Linked DNA regions of Homo sapiens: region 1 is reported to be linked to region 2. The links are microRNA targets in miRTarBase. Many come from high-throughput screens and were not tested one by one. Region 2 holds a microRNA gene; the other region holds the end of a gene's coding sequence. Distances are between the middles of the regions.

Region 1 (5,000 bases), 89 Mb from region 2:
TTTGAGGCCAAGGTGAGATGATTGCTTGAGGTCAGGAGTTGGAGTCCAGCCTGGGCAACATAGCAAGACGCCATCTCCACAAAAATAAAAAAAATAGCTGGGTGTGGCAGCATGCAATTGTACTCCCAGGTACGTACTCAGGAAGCTGGGGCAGGAGGATCCCTTGAACCCAGGAGTTGAGCCTGGATGGCAGAGCTAGACTATGTCTCGTAAAAAGAGATATATTTGGTTCATATAACAAAATACTGTTATTGTGTTTGATACTTAATCTATGATAGTCAAAAATGTCAACAATGAAGTGACTAAAATGTTCTTGCTGTTTCTACACCTGGCAGTTTCTGGCTAGTAAAATCTGGATTTCACTTGCCTAATGAAATCTGATTCTAATTAGTGGCTTTTTAAATAAAAAAGATATTATTGGAATATCCCTTGCATATAGTCTTAAAATGTCATATTTTTTCCTTTAAGAATAGGAGCCATAGTAATATCTATTAAAAAATCTGTATTTTTGGCCAGGCACAGTGGCATGCCTATAATCCGAGCACTTAGGGAGGCTGAGGCATGAGGACTGCCTGAGGCCAAGAGTTCATAACCAGCCTGGGCAACACAGCAAGACTGTCTCCACAAAAAAATTTTAAAATCAGCCAGATGTGGTGACATGCGCCTGTGGTCCTAGTTAGGAGGATGAGGTGGGAGGATCCCTTGAGTCCGGGAGTTAGAGGCTGCAGTGAGCTATAATCGGGCCGCTGCACTCTAGCTTGGGCAACATAGTGAGACCCTGTCTCTAAAAAATGAACAAAAATAAAAACTAGTATCTTTCAAAAAATTTAATATTTTCCTTATATTTGTTATATATAGTAAACTGTTACCTTTTTTTCAAAACTACGATACATCAAAAGAATTTTAGACTGTGTGAACAGATTTCAATGTTATTATCAGAAATTCCCAGATGGTATATATATATATATATTTTTTTTTTTGCAGGGTTGCTTGTTCCATTATATGCATTTTATATCAATTTAAACTTTTGTTTGTTCTTTCTCCAATAATATACTAGGAAGCATTCTGATATATTATTATGCATTGTTGACAACAGTTCCAAAATGGTAATTCCAAATTCAAAGGAAAAGAAAATATTGATCATCTTCTCATAGAAAAGCTATGTTTTTCTACAAAGGCCCCACTATGCCTGGCCAAGTAATTTCTTAAAACTTTATTTGGGCTGGGTGCGGTGGCTCATGCCTGTAATCTCAGCACTTTGGGAGGTCCAGGTGGGCAGACAGCTTGAGCCCAGGAGTTCAAGACCAGCATGGGCTACATGGCGAAACCCTCTCTCTACAAAAAAAGTAATAATAAAAATAAATTAAAAAATAAAAAATAAAAAATTGACTGGGTGTGGTCCCAGCTACTTGGAAGGCTGAGGTGAGAGGCCAGCTTGAGCCCAGAAGGTGGAGGTTGCAGTAAGCCAAGATTACACCATTGTACTCCAGTATGGGTGACATAGTGAGACCCTGTCTTGACAAAAAAACAAAAAAACCAACCTTTGATAAGAGAGCAAGTATCAACATTTTAAAGAACTGCACTACTATGGCAAGACAGCATAACTAGTACCGGTCAGCAGGTTCTGAGCACTGCATTGTCAGGTTCCTAGCTTTTCCCCAACCACGGGAAAGCAGCACCACTCATTTATCCAAGTGATTCTTGGGAATATATAAGTCCATGTAAAGCAGGCATCTCTGGTGTTCTGGTAGAGGAACTGGGACCATTGAAAGGTCTCATGGCTTTTGAGGGAAAGGGTGTGGAGCAATATCAGAGGACTGAATAGTCTAGGCATGTATTGACCTCTCATATTCCTTCTGTTCAGGGAGTAAGATCTAACCACTTGAGTTAACCAAGGAAAGGAGTTTGGCAGGGATTGATCAGAGACAATACTTGTCCAAGAGACTTGGTCACTTACATTATATCTATCTCAAGGAAGAATGCCTGAACTATGAATGTATTCTGCTGTGGAACCAGGATTGGGAATAGGTGGGGACCAGTTCTGGATGCCATTTTATTCTTTGTCTATGCATCTGATATATAGGCTTCTTTATCTTTAACCATCTAGTTTATACAGACTACATTCGGTCAGCCTAGGTTGGGTGAGTTAAGAAAGACATTTTAAATAACTGCCCTTAAGGATCATTTGAAGACCATCCAAAACAGGACTAGGAATTCATCTTTGTCCTCTCAAAGTTAGAAGATTTCCAGAGACTACAAATACAATAAAATTTATACCAATCAGCACAAAATGAGAAAAAGAAGGATTCTGTGCATGAATTTTCTGGCCACCTTTATTCACTATTTGGCATTAAAATATACTTTAAGAAATGGTAACTGGAGCTCTAGCTCTTGGTCTATATGAAAATGAGGACCACATACCAGGGATGGAGGGAGCCTAGGATCCTAAAGAATGTGGAACAAAACCTACATCAGCCCTGGACTGCCTCTGGTTTTCTACAGAGAACTAAACTCCTAACTGGTTCAATACACTGTTTAGCTCTCAACTGCAGCCAAGTTTAGATATTGTTTCGCAGACTTCTGCAACAGGAACATCATTTGAGATGTAATACCATCTAATAATGAGACCAAACATATTTCCCAAATATTACTAAAAGGTTGTGAATGCTCTACTTAAGGAGTATCAATCCATTAATAATGGAAATAACATTTAAAAAATACATTTACTTTAAATATTTTTATATAACACATGCATAAAGATAAATGCTAATGATATCATAAAATCTGTAGAATGTTTAATACTGATGAAAGGTTTTGTCTAAAAAATTTATTCTAATCTACACATGAGGAAAGATTAGGGTTACAGTGAAAACTGTATGCAATGCAATTTTTTATTTTTTTTTGAGACAGAGTCTTGCTCTGTTGCCCAGGCTGAAATGCAGTGGCACAATCTCAGCTCACTGCAACCTCTGCCTCTCGGGTTCAAGCAATTTGCCTGCCTCAGCCTCCGGAGTAGCTGGGACTACAGGCACATGCTGCCACGCCCAGCTAATTTTTTGTATTTTATTAGAGACGAGGTTTCACTGTGTTGCCCAGGCTGGTTTCGAACTCCTGAGCTCAGGCAATCCGCCCGCCTCAGCCTCCCAAAGTGCTGGGATTACAGGCGTGAGCCACCGTGCCCAACCAACTGTATGCAATTTCTAAAGGATCTGACATATATTTAATATAAAGTGCCTTCCTTAAAATATCTTGATGAATTCTTCAAAAATTGGCAATCTACTTGTCTTTATTTTGAGATAGAGTCTGGCTCTGCTGCCCAGGCTGGAGCACAGTGGTATGATCTCAGCTCACTGCAACCTCCACCTCCTGGGTTCAACCAATTCTCCTGCCTCAGCCTCCCAAGTACTTGGGACCACAGGAGTGTGCCACCACACCCGGCTAATTTGTTTTGGATTTTTTTTTTTTTAGTAGAGACAAAGTTTCACCATGTTGGTCAGGCTGGTCTCGAACCCCTGACCTCAGGTGAGCCGCCTGCCTTGGCCACCCAAAATGCTGGGATTACAAGCATGAGCCACCGTGCCCTGCCGAATCAATATTTTGTTATCGTTGTTGTTGAGACAGAGTCTTGCACTGTCACCCAGGCTGGAGTGCAGTGGCACAATCTCAGCTCACTACAACCCCTGCCTCCCGGGTTCAAGCAATTCTCCTGCCTTAGCCTCCCAAGTAGTTGGGATTACAGGCGGTCGCCACCATGCCCAGCTAATTTTTGTAGTTTTAGCAGAGACAGGGTTTTGACATGTTGGCCAGGGTGGTCTCAAACTCCTGACCTCAGGTGATCCACCTGCCTCGGCCTCCCAATGTGCTGGGATTACAGGTGTGAGCCACCATGCCCAGCCTACATTTTTTTTAATGTTCTGAGTACCCTCACAGCCTAATTTTCTTGAACATTTATTCTGCCAAAAGGAACTGAATTTCTAACTTTTTCTCTATTACAATTTTCATTAATCTTTTTGAATGCTTTTTTAAAATAGCTAACTTAAAAAAATCTAAGTCTCTAACAGAAATAAAAATCTCAACAATCAATTACTGGATTTCCAATATAACCTTTTACAGCATTTCAAAAACAAATCTTAATTCGGCCAGGCACAGTGGCTCACTTTGGGAGGCTGAGGTGGGCAGATCACCTGAGGTCAGGAGTTCAAGACCAGCCTGGCCAACATGGCAAAACCCCGTCTCTACTAAAAATACAAAAATTAGCAGGACATCGTGATGTGTGCCTGTAATCCCAGCTACTTGGGAGGTTGAGACAGGAGAATCGATTGAACCTAGGAAGCGGAGGTTGCAGTGAGTTGAGATTGCGCCACTGCACTCCAGCCTAGGCAACAGAGCAAGACTCCATCTCAAAAAAAAAAAAAACAAATAAAAATAAAAAAGCAAATCTGAATTCAAACCAATACCTTTAAAGAGAAATGTAAAACTCAGTTTAATTTCAAGTTTGTATAGAGAATGTATGCCACAGTTTGTATTTTATAAACACAACCTATCTTATTATAAATACAAAATAAGAAAAAGTGATACGTTAGCTGTTATGAAGGGTGAAAACATTATATAAACTTCAAAAGGCTGCTTTCTGCATCTGCATCTATGTAATTTCATGGTTCTCTACCAATTTCATTTACAGAAATAATCTCTATAGTCAAATTATTGTTCACTTTCATGCCCCAACATGGGAAGTGGTAGGTGAATATCTGTAGGAATACAATTTATTGTCTGCTCCTCCACTCAGAAGTAGCTGTGTAAAAGGAGAGAAAAAGACAAGAAAACATAAATAAATATAATTATTTCACATCATAGCTAAACCTAATTAAATACTAATGATTTTCATTACAAAAGGAATTATGGGTGAGCAGTTAACTTGCATTGAGAGTGAGTAAAGGGACCAACGTTGTTTCACTACTATACTATGATACAGTTTATTAAAACATTAAAAGCTATCATTT
Region 2 (5,178 bases):
CCTTTTTTTTTTTTTTAATGGAGGTGAAATTCACATAAGTTTGACCATTTTAAAGTGAACAATCAGTGGCATTCAGTACATTCACCATGTTGTGCCAACACTATCTCTATGTAGTTCCAAAACATTTTCATCAGCTCAAAATGAAACCTTGTACCCATGAAGCAGCCACTTCCCATTCTCCCCTCCCCTTAGCCCCTGGAAATCGGCTTTCTTTCTCCACAGATTTACATATTCTGTATATTTCCTATAAATGGAATTACACAATAGGTGACCTGTGTCTGGCTTCTTCCACTTAACCTAATGCTTTTGAGGTTCAGTCACATGGTGCCATGGATCAGCTCTGCCTTCCTTTTTATGACTAATACTCCACTGTATGTCCATATCACCATTTGTGTATTCACTCATTAATCTATGGACACAAGCCTCATTTTTAAGCACTTCAAATATGTTAACTCACTGAATCCTCACCACAAAGACAGATTCAGTTATTACATATTGATAGAGTGAAAACTGAGGCACAGGTAACATGCCTAGGATCACGTGGCTATGAAGCAGAAAGAGGACTCCAGCCGAGGCAGTCTAGTCCCAAAGTCCTTCCCTTCCTAGTAACCACTATGCTCTCCTGCCTCTCAGAGAACAACCCACATAGCACAACACGAGGGCTAAGCTGTCTGGTCTGTCTGGTGAAGCTTCAAATGCTGTTCATTTCAGATAAGGGGAGGTTCCTGGGCTGCAGAGGCTTCCTAGAGGAGGAAGACCATGTAAGGTCTAACTCAGGGCAGGTCAGGATGGTGTGAACTCACTCTGAACACAGTCACCGATGGGTGTTTATGAAAACTGGCTCTGGAACTCCCACAGGGAAGGTTCTTATCTTTGCGTGCACAACACAGAGCCCTCTGGGTAGACTTCTAGACCCAGGCCTCTTTCAAATACATTAGAAACCTCAGCAAGATAAACTATTTTCTGTCTGGCTGCATCTGTCTATCTGTTTAGAGAGCAGGACATTTCCATCCTCCTCTCTCCAGGCATCCTTGGAAGTCTTTCCCACAAGCAAGACATCTTGGTGAAATTTAATGCTGCAGAGGGAAATGGTTTTCAGGAGAGAGGAGTCTGTTCCCGGAACTGTAGCACAAAAGCTAGAGGCTGAGTAGGAACATCTTAAACTAAGTCCTCAGTCTTATTTCCAGTTTTCTTCCTGTAGATCGGGGCTTAGGACACCCTGTCACATTTTCTTCACTCCTCCACCAGGAATTCCTAAAGTCCATGCTCTTGGATCCTGGCAAATCGAGGAGGCTGGGGGATGTGGCAAGCTTCAGCAAGACTGCCTGGGACCAACCCTGCAGCCTTAATTTCCCAGGCCCACTCAGCCCAGCTGGCCAGCAAAGGCAGGCAGGGCTTCCGTGTCCACACATGAGAATGACCTGCAGCTGTTCTTTGTCCAGGCTGAGGTCCAGGATTCCCATTGCAGCTCCTAGGAAATCTTTAAAATTAGGTCGGGGATGAGGCTGTCAGTAGATTAGGTAGGGAACTTTTATGAAGTTGAGGGTGAACCATCTGGAGGGTGAACTGGCTGGTGTGATTTAGAACTGGGGGTGGTGCCTAGCAGTGCATTTGTGAGAAGACACAGCCAGGCTTGGTATATGATGTGGTGTGTGTGTATATTCACAGGCATCGTGGAGCATATACACTTTTTTTGTGTGTGTTGAAATAAACCTTACAGATTACAAAGTACTTTTTTTTTTCCCTGAGACAGGGTCTCTCTCTGTCGCCCAGCCTGGAGTGCAGTGGTACAATCATAGCTCACTGCAGCCTCAATCTCCCAAGCTCAAGTGATCCTCCCGCCTCAGCCTCCCATGTAGCTGGGACTACAGGTGTGTGACACCATGACTGGCTATTTTATTTTATTTTTGTAGAGATGGAATCTCACAATATTGCCCAGGCTGATCTCAAACTCTTGGGCTCAAGCAGTCCTCTCGCGTCAGCCTACCAAAGTGCTGGGATTACAGGCATGAGCCACCACGCCCAGCCAGATTACAAAATACTTTGACATCTTTTCTCTACAGCCCTCAAAAGGAGGCAGGGCAAGCACAATTAAATCCCATTACAAATGGGGTGACTGAAGCTCCATTCATGGCTTGCCCAGGGTCACACAAAGAATGAATAGCAGAGCCCTGAGCCTGTGTGCTTCCCTCTGTGCCAGGCTGCTTTACCCAGGCATGGGTGCACCTTGTGCATGGGACATTTCTCCTTTGTTGTGTCCTGAGTACCTTAAGCCACTCAGATATTGCTCAGGTGGAGTGAGGGGAAAATGTTTTCAGGTTGTATTAGTCAAAACAAAATACCACACACTGGGCGACTTTAAAATCATACATTTATCCCTCACAGTTCTGGAGGCTTGGAAGTCCAAGTTCAAGGTGGCAGCTGGACGGGTTCCTGGTGAGGGCTCTCTTCCTGGTTTGCAGACAGCCACCTTCTCTTCGCATCCTCACTTGGTGGGAAAAGACAGAGGAGAGAAAGAGAGAGAGAGAAATGAGATAGAGAGAGAGAGAGAAATGAGATAGAGATAGAGAGAGAGAGAGAGAGAGAGAGAGAGAGAGGGAGACAGAGAGACAATGCTCTCTTTTCTTACCAGATCTATAATGAGGGCCCCACCCCATGACCTCATCTAACCGTAATTACCTACCAAAGGCCCATCTCCACATACCATCACATTAGGGGTTAGGGTTTCAACATAAGAATTTGGAGAGGACATAAACATTCTGTCTACAACATGAGTGGAGATCCATCTCTTCCTTACCTCTGGTAAGGGGACCACACGCTGCAGCCAGTGAGACAGTGGCATGTTCTTGTTACAACTCAATCTAACTCCCCCAGAAGAGGAGGCAGGGAAGGCGGACAAAACTGGGAGAGGGAGAGAGTGTTAGGAAGAGAGTAGGGTGGCCAGAGGCAGCAAATAAAATATAAAATGCTTAATTTTGAATCTCAGATAAACAACCAATAATGTTTTTTAGCATAAGTATGTCCCAAACTAAGCTTGGGAAATATTTATGCTACGAAATTATTCGTTGTTTATCTAAAATTCAAACTAGCTGGGCATCCTGTCTTTTAATCTGGCAACCCTAAAAGGCAAGAGCCAAAAATGCCGGAGGGAAGCCAACGGATTCCAGGAGGGACAACTGCTGGACTTTGGACTGATGATGCTCTTTTTATATATTTAACTTTTTAAAAAAGCCTCTTTTCTTTCTTTTTACCAGCTTTTCACTAGCTTTTTAAAAATTGGGGTAAAACATACATAACCTAAAATTCACCGTCTAAACCATTTTTCAGCATACAGTTCAGTGGGATTAAGTAGATTCACACCGTTGTGCCGCCATCACTACCACTCATTTCCAGCACCTTTCCATCACCCCAGCCTGAAACTCTACCCATTGAACACGAGCTGCCCAACTCCGCCTTGCTTCCCCATTCCTGGCGACCACTGCTTCTGTCTCTGTGAATTCTGACTACTCTAGGCACTTCACAAAAGTGGACTCATACGATATCTGTAGTTTTGCGTCTGGCTTCTCTATTTAATTCTTAAAGGGGGGTGGGAACTAAACAGATCACAAGGGAGCTGCCCACAGAGGTAAAGACAAGGTCAGATAGGCTGAGAGACGCAGGAAAGCGGGTCAATGTGTAGGGCTGGAGGGCAGGGGCGGGCCCTGGGCCTGGGCTGGGGGTCCTGCCCCGGGGCGCACCCAGGGCGAGGGCTGCCCGGAGGAGCCGAGGCTGGCGGACAGCTTGGCCCTGAGCTTGAGGGGAAGGCAGCGATGGGACAAAGGACGGAGGTCTAGGAAGAGGGTCTGCAGAGCAGAAAGCACGGGTAGGGGCGGCCTGACGCTCGGAAGACAACGGATGGGAGCCGTGTGCACGTCGGGAGCTCGGAGTGAGCGTGAGTTCCGTGCCCAGGCCCGCGACTCGGTCCACCAGGACAGCGCTCCGGGTCGACGGGGTCCTGGAGCCGCGCTCGGGGAGGGCGCAGCGGAGGGTGAGCGGCGGCGTTAGGACCCGGAGGCGCGGGCGGAGGTGGCGGGGCTAGGACCCAGCGGCTCCGGCAGAGCGGAAGCGGCGGCGGGAGCTTCCGGGAGGGCGGCTCGCGGGTGAGGAGGCGTCCGGGGCCGCGGGAAGTAGGGTCGTGGGGGCCTGGCGGGGCGAAGTAGGGGACCCGGAGGGGCTGGAGGGAGGCGGGCGGGAGGCCCGGGACCGTTCCTGACCGAGAAGCCTGCGCCAAGCTGGTGTTCCGCGGCCGCTGCCCGGTGCCCGGCTCCACTGCGAACGCCGCCGCTGGGCCCCGACCGCCCGGGAGGCGTCTTGGGCTCGCCCCGGAGCTTCCTCCCTGGAGCCGCGCCCTGCACCCGGCCTTGCCCGGCCCTAGCAGGGAAGCCAAGGCTTGTGGGGCGCAGGGACCCGGGCTCTGCGGGGTCCCGGTTCCGCCTCCCCACTCCTGCGTCTTCCCGCCCCGGCCGGGTTCTGGGAAGCCTCGCGCGGCTCTTCCGCAGCTGCTGCCCGCCCGGATCTCCTGGTCCCTCGTAGGGGACCCCACTTCTCTGACACCGCGTTGGGTTCCCGGGGCCTACAGCGAGGCCTGTAACTCCGGGAGAGACCCTGGAGCGGGGTGTGGGAGAACGGTCTGGAGGAAGGGCTCCGAGCACTTCGAAAGTATAAACCGCGGTCCCAAAGAGGCGTGCTGTGTCTGCATTTTCCTGGGAGTGCACGGTTTACATTCTGTAAAGCAGTGCTGTCGACTAGAAATTTTGTGCGATACACATGTACAAGTTTTGTCACTTAAAAAGAATTTGAAAAAACTTCATAGATGCAAAAAAAAAAACCCACCATTATTAAAGAATACTTAGGCATTTGTGGAATGCATTGAAGAGTTAACAAAATGGATAGGCAGGAAATATCGCAGACCTAGAGTGAATTACAGTTACCCACTGTGGAACTGAGGAGCTAGGGTTTCTCATAAAACTCCCTGATAGGAGACGACTTTTGATAAAAATTTTTTTCCGCCAACAAAATCCCCTGTCTTCTCCACTAGTTATTGTCTGTCCACTAAATAAGAGGTGGTCCGTCACTTCTTCAGATGAGCAACTACAGGCTTTTCAAAAGATAATTGCTAATCAACCCCTTTGTGCCTGG

Evidence for each region. The annotated mature microRNA hsa-miR-1302 reads UUGGGACAUACUUAUGCUAAA and lies in region 2 at 3,007-3,027, opposite strand. An mRNA with a match to its seed (bases 2 to 7 or 8) in the 3' UTR can be bound and repressed. Matches are read on the target gene's strand: a 7mer-m8 pairs with bases 2 to 8, a 7mer-A1 pairs with bases 2 to 7 and ends in A, and an 8mer does both.
Region 1: miRTarBase lists WDR12 as a target of hsa-miR-1302. Seed matches in the 3' UTR shown: 7mer-A1 at 3,407-3,413.

The regions. Positions count from the first base shown.
Region 1 is chr2:202,876,146-202,881,145 of GRCh38, forward strand. It overlaps WDR12 (WD repeat domain 12), which reads right to left. Exons shown (of 13, transcript NM_018256.4): 13 at 1-4,792. The coding sequence ends at 4,715. Among named protein-coding and RNA genes, the nearest start is that of ICA1L, 6.9 kb to the left of the region's middle.
Region 2 is chr2:113,579,998-113,585,175 of GRCh38, forward strand. It overlaps MIR1302-3 (microRNA 1302-3), which reads right to left and starts at 3,099; the gene lies at 2,962-3,099. It overlaps LOC124907875 (a long non-coding RNA gene), which reads right to left and starts at 4,033. Exons shown (of 3, transcript XR_007087204.1): 1 at 2,798-4,033; 2 at 2,371-2,488. It also overlaps the pseudogene WASH2P. RefSeq lists an enhancer at 3,400-4,231 and silencers at 3,633-3,812, 3,823-4,007.